Regions from separate parts of the Homo sapiens genome. Here region 1 is linked to region 2. The links come from fine-mapping of genetic effects on gene expression. A gene starts in region 2. The other region holds a variant in brackets. All regions are shown on one strand. Distances are between the middles of the regions. Region 1 has its middle 65 kb from the start of FAM133A. Region 2 holds the start of NAP1L3 (nucleosome assembly protein 1 like 3).

What was found.
Region 1: its variant is fine-mapped to the expression of NAP1L3 in whole blood (TOPMed, PIP above 0.99).

Annotation. Positions count from the first base shown.
Region 1 is chrX:93,736,172-93,741,554 of GRCh38, forward strand. No RefSeq gene overlaps it. Among named protein-coding and RNA genes, the nearest start is that of FAM133A, 65 kb to the left of the region's middle. The variant C/T (reference allele first, on the strand shown) is at 2,410.
Region 2 is chrX:93,670,489-93,675,871 of GRCh38, forward strand. It overlaps NAP1L3 (nucleosome assembly protein 1 like 3), which reads right to left and starts at 3,090. Exons shown (of 1, transcript NM_004538.6): 1 at 442-3,090. The coding sequence starts at 2,816. The coding sequence ends at 1,296. FAM133A (family with sequence similarity 133 member A) reads left to right here and starts at 3,718. Exons shown (of 4, transcript NM_001171109.2): 1 at 3,718-3,786; 2 at 4,193-4,264.

The DNA.
Region 1 (5,383 bases), 66 kb after region 2:
GTGCTGCTGGATTGATTTGCTAGTATTTTGTTAAAAAGTTAAGTGTCTATGTTCATTAGGGATATGGGTCTGACATTTGCTGTTTTCATTGTATCTCTGCTAGGTTTTGGTGTCAAAATGATGCTGGACTCATAGAAGGAATTACAGAGGAATCCTTCCTTCTAAGTTTTTGAAATAATTTCTGTAGGATTGGTATCAGCTCTTCATTATATGTCTGCTATAATTTGGCTGTGAATTCATCTGTTCCAGAGCCTTTTCTGGTTGGTAAGGTTTTTTATCACTGATTCAATTTTAGAAGTTGTTATTGGTCTGTTCAGGATTTCAATTTCTTCCTGATTCAATTTTGGGAGGTTGTGTTTTTCCAGGAATTTGCCTATATCTTGCAAGTTTCTTAGTTTCTGTGCATAGAGTTGTTCATAATAGTCTGAGAGTTTTGTTTTGTTTTTTTTTTTTTGTATTTCTGTGAGATCAGTGGTAATGCCACATTTGTCATTTATGATTCTGTTTATTGGATCTTCTCTTTTGATCTTTATTAGTCCAGCTAGTAGTCTATCAATATTATTTATTCTTTCAAAAAATAAGATTTGGTTTCACTCATCTTTTGTATAGTTTTTCACATCTCAATTTTATTCAATTTAGCTCCGATTTTGGTTATTTCTTTTCTTGTACTAGCTTTTGGGTTGCTTTGTTCTTTTATTTCTATTTTTCTAAATGAGCTGTTATGTTGTTATTATAATTTGAACTTTTTCTAACTTCTCTATATAGGCATTTAGCACTGTTAAATTTCCTCTTAAAATTGCTTTAGCTGTGTTCCAGAGATTCTGGTGTGTAGTATCTTTGTTTTTATTAGTTACAAAGATTTTTTAACATTTCTGCCTTAATTTTATACTTTATCCAAAAACCCTTCAGAAGGAGGTTGTTTAATTTCCATGTAATTGTATGGTTTTGAGAGATCTTGGTATTGATTTTTATTTTTATTTTTATTGCACTGTTGTCTGAGAGTGTGGTTGGCATGATTTTGTTATTTTTGGAATTTGTTAAGAATTGCTTTATGGCTGAGCCTGTGGTCAATCTTAGAGTATGTGCTGTGCACAGATTAGAAGAATATAGATTCTGTTGATGGGTGGGGTATTCTGTAGATGCTTGTTAGGTCTGTCATGAATATCTTTGCTAGTTTTCTCTCTCAATGATCTAACACTGTCAGTAGGGTGTTGAAGTCTCCCAGTATTACTGTGTGGTTATCTAAGTCTCTCTGGAGATCTCTAAGAACTTGTTTTGTAAATCTGGGTGCTCTTTTGTTGGGTGCATATATATTTAGCATAGTTAAGTCTTCTTGTTTAACTCTTTATCATTATGTAATGCCCTTCTTTGTTCATAATTATTGTTGGTGTAAAGTCTGTTTTGTCTGAAATAAGAGTAGCAACTCCTGATCTTTTTGTTTTTTTTTTCTTTGCTTCATAGATCTTTCTCCTTCTCTTTACCTTAAGTCTATGGGTGTCATTGCATGTGAGATTGGCCTCTTGAAAACAGAATACAGTTGGGTCTTGCTTCTTTATCCAACTTGTCATTTTGTGTCTTTTAAGTGGTTATTTAGTCCATTTACATTCAAGTTTAATATGTGGGAATTTGATCCCGTCATTATATTGTTAGCTGGTTGTTTTGTAGACTTGGACTTGATTGCATAGTTGCCTTATAGTGCCAGTGGGCTATGTACTTAAGTGTGTTTTTGTGGTGGCAGGTAACAGTCTTTCATTTCCCTGTTTAGCACTCCCTTAAGGACCTCTTGTAAGGCAGGTCTAATGGTAAAAAATTCCCTTAGCATTTGCTTGTCTGAAAGGGATCATATTTCTCCTTTATTTATGAAACTTAGTTTGGCTCGACATGAAATTCTTGCTTGGAATTTCTTTAAGGATGTTTAATATAGGTCCTCAATCTCTTCAGGGTTGTAAGGTTTCTGCTGAAAGGTCCACTGTTAGCCTGATGAGGTTCCCTTTGTACTTGACCTACCCCTCTTCTCTAGCTGGCTTTAATTTTGTTGTTGCTGTTTTCTTTTGCACTGACTTTGGAGAATCTGATGACTATGTGCCTTGGGGATAGCCATCCATTATAGTATGTCACAGAAGTGCTCTGAATTTTCTGAATTTGCATATATACCTCTCTAGCAAGGTTCAGGAAATCTTCATGGACAATATTATCAGATATGTTTTCCAAGTTGCCCGCTGTCTCTCCATCTTTTCCAGAAATGCCAATGAATTGTAAGTTTGTACCCTTGATATAATCCCATATTTTGTAGAGATTTTTTCATTTTTTAAATTATTCTTTTTATTTTTATCTGTCTGCATTGATTTGAAGGAGCAGTCTTCAAGCTCTGAAATTTTTCACTCAGCTTGGTCTATTTTGTTATTAATG[C/T]TTCCAGTTGCATTCTGAAATGCCTGTAGTGAATTTTTCATTTCTAGAAGTTCAGTTTTGTTCTTTCTCAAAATGGTTATGTCATCCTTCAACTCTTTGACCATTTTACTTTTTTCCCTGGATTGGGTTTCAACCTTCTCCTATATCTCTGTGAGCTTCCTTGTCATTCAGTTTCTGAATTCTACATTTGTAATTTCAGCCATTTCAGTTTGGCTAGAAATCATTGCTCAAGAGCTAGTGGGGTCATTTAGAAGTAAGAAGACAGTTTGGCTTTTACAGTTGCCAGAGTTCTTGTGCTGGTTGTATCTCATCTGTGTGGGCTCATGTTTCTTTAATCTTTGGAGTTGCTCTCTTTAGGATGGTGCTTTTTTCTTTTATATCCTTTGATGCCCTTGAGGGTTTAACTGTGGTATAAGTTGGGTTTAGTGGATTGGCTTTGTTTCTGTATGCTTTCAGCAGGCCAAGGCTCAGCTCAGCACTCTTGTGCTGCATACTCTCACTCTGGGGGCTAGGACCAGGCCTGCAGCTTTGTTCCCTGACTCTTGAGTTTAAGCACCTGCTGCACTGGAGCGATGGAAGTGTTCTCAGTTCATGGGCAATAATCCTCTGATTTGTGTGGCCATCAAAAGTGCTATGGTGGGGCAGTGGTGGGCCCCCATGCATGCAGTAGTGGGGGATCTGTCTGCAAAGGTGGGTAGGCAGAGTCTGCCTGTGAAAGAGCTATAATAGTGGGCACTGGTGAATGTTTTGGCTAGGGATCTGAGGCCATGCTGCAAGCAGGTATGTCCAGAGAGAAACCCTGGGAAAAGCTGGCAAATGAGGGAGTGTTCAGATCAGACTGGCCTCATCCCATGGGCAAGATGGCCCTGTTCTGTCCAGTTCCAGCAGCTAACAAAGGCTCAATCTTCCTAGGGGATGGGAACCCATGACAGTGCTCAACTACAGCCTTTCTGGTACCAAACACTCTGGTCTTTCTCTAGGAGTTCTGTTTCATCCAGCTCTCCAGGCAGTTCTCACTGCCAGCTCAGATGTCTGTGGAGGTTGTCAGTTCTGTTTCTTCCATAGCTATGTTAACAATAAAAAAAAATTGTGGGTTTCTTTGTTTTGGTTTTTGGTTTTTAGAGACAGGGTTCTCATCATGTTGCCCAGGCTGGTCTCAAACTCCTCCTGATCTCAAGCAATCCTCCTGCCTTGACTTCCCAAAGTGCTGGGATTACAAGCATGAGTGGCAAGGCCTAATCAAAAAAGTGTGTTAAAAACAAGTTATGAAAGGTATTTGTTAAAACTAGTTGCTAGTTGCAATTGTCTGAGGCTTAGCATTCATAATTATTCTTTCTGGCCACTGATTACATAAGTTCCCTCATGCATGGAACTGACACTGTTTCACAATTTTTAAGGCAAAATAGTTTTCTCAATTTTCCTCTTAATCATCTCAATTTTAGGGTTTTGTCTGTTTTATTTCTTTTGCCTTTGTGATAGCCCTTTTATCTAAATTTTCCCATTTTCAAAATTGTTTTCAGTTTGACAATCATTCAGGTCAGGATGACACTGTGCAGGAAAGAAGTTTCTGCCTAAATGAGAGAAGTAATTACCCAGCAGAGTTACATAATTAGACAGTAAGTTTTGTTGTGTGTCATATATGTAGCTATAAGAAGATATGAGAAGAGACTAAAAATTTTAATTTATGCTTCCGTCATGTTTCTCTATGTTAAGCTTCTGACTGTCTAAGTTGGGAAGACATTTTATACACAGATAAAATCTATTTAAAGACAAAAAATTAATAACAAATGTATCCTAAAATAGCACCTGGAGCATACAAATATAGATGAAAGAAAGACCTTATTCAAGGAAGGTTTGCTCAGTCCTCTGATGGTACCTGATGTCAGGTTTATAGAATCCTTGGATCATGCTTCTTTCTTTCTGAGACAGATTGAAGGACATTACCACAGTACTACATGGATACGTAAAACACTAAGGCATACATTGAAGTTAGTGAGGTAAGATGTGGAGGCAGTAATACTCATTGATAAGAGGGTAGCTACAATCTTAACCTAAAGAATATCTCAACACATAACCTGACTAAAACTTCTGCATTAGCAATGCTTTTGCAAGACTTTGAAAACTCTTGTTGAAATGCATGAGTCAGATAGGAGTAAAAATCATTAACTCATTAACAAAATATTTATTTAATGTCCACTATACACTAGGTCCCCTGCCTGGTCTTGTTGGTACAACAATTAACAGAACTTGGTCTCTGACTTCAAAGATTTTCAAGCCTGGTAGGGAAAATGAACAAATAAATGTGCCATTACAATTTAAGGTTAACAGTGTAGGTAAAGGTTATGAGCCAAGTGTAGGTGGCTATAGAATTACAGAAGAGGGCCACCTAACTCAAAATGAAGGCTGAGTATTTGGGTCAGAATGGCTTCCAAGAGGAAATAATGTGTGAGCTTAGAGGAACAGCACAGATAAGGTTTAAATATTGGGTAAGAGATAGCTACATAAAATAATTAAAAACAGAAGGGAACTTTCAATAATAGCACATTTTACTAAATAAAGAAGTATTATATAGGTATAGAAACTAACAGACAAGCAAATCGAGAGCTACACATGGAGTCATATGAATACACACATGCAAACAAGTAAAAGTCATTTCATATTTTGGTTCCTTGGCATACCATTTAAGGTCAAGCGCACAATTTTTGGCCCTAATATTTCTTCGCAAGCTCATCTTCTACAATCCCCCTCGCAGTCCTAAACTTTCTCAATGTAGATAGTATTTTCACCAGAAAACAGAATTCTTAAGTAGTTCTAATTTTGTTTTTTTTTTGTCGGGGGGTGGGATTTATGGTTTTTAAAAAATTTCTTCGTCCTCAGGATTTTCAACTATTTAAGCCCTTATGAGTTCAGAACTCTATTTAAAAAAAAAATCACATTCAAAAATAGCACATTTAGGCCAGTCGCAGTGGCTCAC
Region 2 (5,383 bases):
GTCAAGGTGAAGGGTGGGTCCATAGCTTGTCTTCTACATAACTGGTGTTGTGAGTGAGGCACTCCTGCTCTCCTTCCCCTCTTCTCTCCAGTTCCCTTTGCCACCGCCCCCCCCCCACATTCCTTCTGCTACCCACCTTCCTCCCTTTCCCTTTTTCACCTCTCTTCTTTCTTCTCCACCCCTCCTTTCTCCCTCCTCCCTTACCCATCCCCATCCCCTTCTACCTTTCCCTTCCTTTCCCTCCATGCCATGTTCCTTTTCCTTGTTCCATTGCTCTCCAAAATCTTGAATGAGTGTCCTCCAACAGAAAAGCTAAGATGTGGGAAATACATCAGAATGTTAATAATAGTTATCTTTTTATTAAATTGTCCTTTTCCTTGTGATCCTCTACTTTCTTCTATGATAAGCATCCCTCTTTTATAGTCAGGAGAAAAGGCTAGATTTTTATAGTATAACACACTTTAATATTTATTTATTTTAGGTTGCAATACAAGAACATGAAAAACAGTATCAAATGAAGTGATCATTTTCAGTGAAAGGGAAGGTAGAACACAATACAAAGAAAACACGGTATCTTTAGTTTACAATTACACAATATAAGATGAAGAAACTTTTTCAAAAATACTATGTTATATTAACACCTCAGTGGTAAACAATAACATCATTATGATTAAATTTATAGGCCACTATATGTCACATACACAAGGTCTCAGTTGAATCAAATGTGGTCTTTTCACATTAGATGTATGCTAATCTTTTTCAAGCAGTCAAACTTCAAAATACACTGTTTTATTTACTATAAGTACTGGATTTCTATAGCAAACTAATGAAGGCACAGCTAGTGCAAGCAGATTTAAACCCTTAGTCTTATGGGCTGGAAAAAAGAAAAAAATAAAACACTTGCATTGGTACTTCATGAACTTTTTTTTTCAAGCAAATATTTGTTTCAGTTAACAATTCTGACAGTTTCACAGCTACAGTCTAACAGAAACATGACCAAAGGACATCACAAAAATCAACACTGTGTAGCACCAAACTAACATGCTTTAGATAATTGACAACAGCTTACATATTTTGAAGAATATTATACTACAACAGCCTAGATAGAATAAACTGGCACTTAGACACTTTTTAGGACTATTTTTAAAATATAGACTACCAAGAAACCACAAAAACTTGACTATAAGGAATAATAGTGTTCAGGTTACAGGTCAGGGTTTTACTTTTTTCAAGGCTGTATGAATCTGCTTCACTTCTTGAGATTTTAAGATTCTTGAAAAATCTTTCAGATTGACTTATTTTCTGTATTTCTTGTTTCCATAATGTTTGCCAAATTGATAGTAGGTACCATTGACTTCTCCAGTATAGTAATAGATTGATTTCAGGATGACATTATCATGTAAAATCTGCCCAATTTCAAAGTCCTCATCCAGGATAGCATCTTCTCGTGGTTCCAGCTTCCCAATCATAGGAATCTCAGGAGGACTAAAGAAGTTGAAGAATGATGCATTAGGAACCACTCTTGGCTGGATTTCAATTTCTCCAGTAGCAGTTGTGCGACTCTGGGTAGTTGTCACAGTAACATCTTTTCCTCTTCTCCAGTCTATCTTGCAGCCTTTGCAATCTTCAATTTCCCATCCCCAAGAAAAGAAGGGATCATTGTGATCTGGTTTTGCCTTTATTATATATGTCTTCACCAGCACCTCATTTCTGAAGTATGGGTTGGGTAGAAAATGAAATTCAAAGGTGTAACTTACAGGCTGGCCAGGTTTTGAGAACTTCAGGCTAACATCCGACAAGAACTTCAGAATGGGCTCATCATACTTCTGAATCATAGGCCCGAGCTTGTCAACATTCTTTAAAACAATCAGCCAATAGTCAGGAATGCCTTTAGGGTCTTCTCTTTTAGGCTTTCCCTTCCTAGCTCTTTTAAGATCTACACTGTCCTGAAGCCTTTCCTCAGGAACTCTTTTATGAGTCTCTCTTACTGCAGCCCTTGCCTTAGCCTCTGTTGCTTTAGGCTGTTCTTTATCATCTGCCTTTACCTGGGGGACTTCTTTAGGATCTTCTTTTACTTCAGGGGTTGCCTCCATACAGTCTTTAGAATCTGCTTTTTCTTCAGCCTTTACCTCAGGAATTTCTTTAGGAACTTCCTTTTCTTCATCCTTCACCTCAGGAATTTCTTTAGGAACTTCCTTCTCTTCAGCTTTCACCTCTGGGTTTTCTTTAGGGTTTTCTTCTTCCTCACCCTCTAAGGGAGGCATTTCACTAGGGGTGTTATCCTGCACCTCCTCATCACTGCTGAACTCCTCATCCTCTGAATTCCATTCACATTCTTCTTCTGTAGGCTCGTATTCTGCATTGATGATTTGAAACCGCCTATCATACAGAGGCTTGTTGAGTTCAGCATATTTTCTTTCAAGATCATGAATTGCTTTTAAGAACAGGGTATCTACCTTGTCACATTCATCTTGAATGTTTCTAAGCGCTTGCACACGATTTCTAACTGCCTGAGGCAGCCTATCCACGAAATTTGTTCCCAACGGGGCCCGCCGCGCCCTTCTGGAAGGCTCAGGTACCCTCTTCTTTCTATACAAGCGGCTGCGGCTGCTAGTGCTGCCGCTGCTGCTGCTGCTGCTGCCGCTGCCGCTGCTGCTGCCACTAGTGCTGCTGCTGCTGCTGCTGTCACTAGTGCTGCTGCTAGAGCTACTGCTGTCAGATTCTTCCCCAGAATCACTAGTCGAGCTAGCCATCTCCTCTTCGGCAACCCCATGGGCGACAGGTTCCGAGACCATTTTAAAATCTGCTTCTGCCATCTTGCAAGCCTACAAACTCTACCAGGGAGACCGCGCGACCAGAGATGGGCAGAAAATGACTCACGGATGCTTGAGTGGCGGCGGCGGAGGCCCGGGCTGCGGAGGTGGCAGCGGCGATGGCAGCAGCGGCGCAGAGCGGAGCTGGAGCTGGGGATGCAGAGGCCGGCGCTGAGGTGGCAGCGGCAGTGGAGGCTTGGGCGACAGCGGTGGCGGCAAGGCCTCTCCCGGCTGCAGCTAGAGTGCCGAGATGTACCGCAGCCGAATGGCGCAGTATGAGACCCCGAGATCTCTTCTCGTTTTAGATCGCGAGCCCCCTCCCCTTGCAGTCAGACCTCCCGTTAATTTCGTTCCCAGTGTGCCTTTAGTTCGCTCCTCATTTGCTGGTCCACCTTAATTGACAAACTGTACGCCCAACGAACGGCCAAACGCCACTACTCCTGGCTCCGCCCACCTTCCCAGACGCCGCTCGCTGGCTGAGGTGCGACCCCTTGGAAGGTGTCCCCCTGCCCCCCAAAAAGTCTATATTTATAGTTTTATAATTAAAAAAGAAAAAAAAGCGTAGACATGAGGTAAAAATACCAGCCATAGTTCCTAACAAGGGCAAAAGAGGCGTGTCTTCCTTCTCCCATCCGCCCACCCTGAATTCCCGTTTAGTTTGTCACGGGTCTCTTGACAAAAAGCTGTAAAAAAAAAAAAAAAAAAAAAAAAAAATTGAATGAAAATGGTCCAAATGGCGTCATTGGGTAGTGTGACTATGGACGATTTAAAAACAAAACGATTTTCTCTAAATATTCTATGAGCATGCATTTTTACACTGGATAAAAAAGGGGAGAGTCGGTTATTGGCAGAGGAGGGAGGGACTAGACAGCAGGCGTATTGCATTCCACGAAGCTGATTTAATAAGTGCTGTCTGTGATGTTTGGCAAGCCTGGTTTATATCCATCTACAAGGTTTGCGAACCCATGTTGCCGTGAGTCAGTTACACCATTTTTATTATATTTCTCTTTTTAGGCTGGCATATTATATACCCCAACCTTGCTGCTAACTTGCCACGTAGCCCTTCTCAATGCTTGTAACAACCTTGTAGATAAAACAAAGAGGTATTAAATGTTAGGTAGTATTGTTAAAAAGCAAATGATTTGCGTTATACTTTTGTGCAGCAGGTTTCAATTCCAAGAACAGTGGGATGGGAGGGGGAATTTGTGCTAATGAATGTGCATCTTCTGTCAGTGTATGCGATGTCATCTGCCACCAATTTCCTTCTAATGTTGTAAAATTCTAGCCATACTATAGTATGATTTACAAGTCCAGTAATATGTGAATAAACTTTTGCAAAATGAAGTTTAAAAACGAGTATTTGTTATTTTTATTTACAGGATTTTTTTTTCTGCTACAGAACAACTCCCTTGGTACAATAAAAAAGACGAGTATTTACTTTTCATTGAAAGGTAAGGATCATATTTAGCACATTTTAAAGAATGACAAAAATTACTCATCTCCATCTGAATAAAAGTTTACAGGATACAGTCATTTAAAGATTTATTTTAGAGAATTATCTTGATAATTCTATGGAAACAGGAAAATCCACAGAGGTAATTTGGCATACTAATGTAGACAATTACATACTTAACCGCATTAACTATCTAAACCTGGTCATAGAATACAAGTGGTAAATTAAAATATGAAATATGATAAATTATTCATTTCAAATGAGGAAATGTATTAAAGTTAGATTAATCTTTATAGAATTTGTGCTTTGTCATGTAATCACGTTTTTTAAAAGTTAGGAAACGCTTTTCTGTTTCATAAATGCATTTACTTTTATTGTTTATCTCTAATTGTCAAAGTCTGTGAACATTGCAAAGATAAAACAATATAGAAAATTCCAACAGTAGTAAAAACACAAAATCTTAACCACCAAATGATAAGAATTACTAGCATTTTGATGCACTTCCTTCCAGAAATTTCCTTGTGCATATACATACCTGCCTATTTATGTATACTGCTTTATCTATGTGACACCATATTATGTTTTGTAATCTTTTCATTTAATTTATCAATTACTAATGGCTATATTTTCATGGCAAATGATCGACATCTTATTTTTAAGTAAGTGCATATTCCATGGAAATAATTGCCTTAATTTATTTGACCAGATTCCTGTTATAGGGTGGCCATTTCTATACCATCTCTCCCCTTAAATACATACTATTTTCCTGCTATAATCAAAGTGTCCCTGGATACCTAAAGCATGTATTTCTATGCACTTGTGAAAATTGGTCATAAGATAAATTCCTAGAAATGGATGGCTTGGGGATGATCATTTCATATTATGAAATTATTATTGTATACATATTGCCAAACTCTCTGCAGAATTATTATCACAATTTACAGTTCCAACAGTGCATAAAGTTCATTTTTTTGTTATTCAACTAATATATTTTTGTGCTTGTCATATGCCGGGCAAATGTGGTAGAGGATTGTAGTATAATGGTGAATGAAATTTACTAAGTGCATATCCTTTCGTTGAATAATTTTAATCAAAACATATGTTATAGAAACAATGA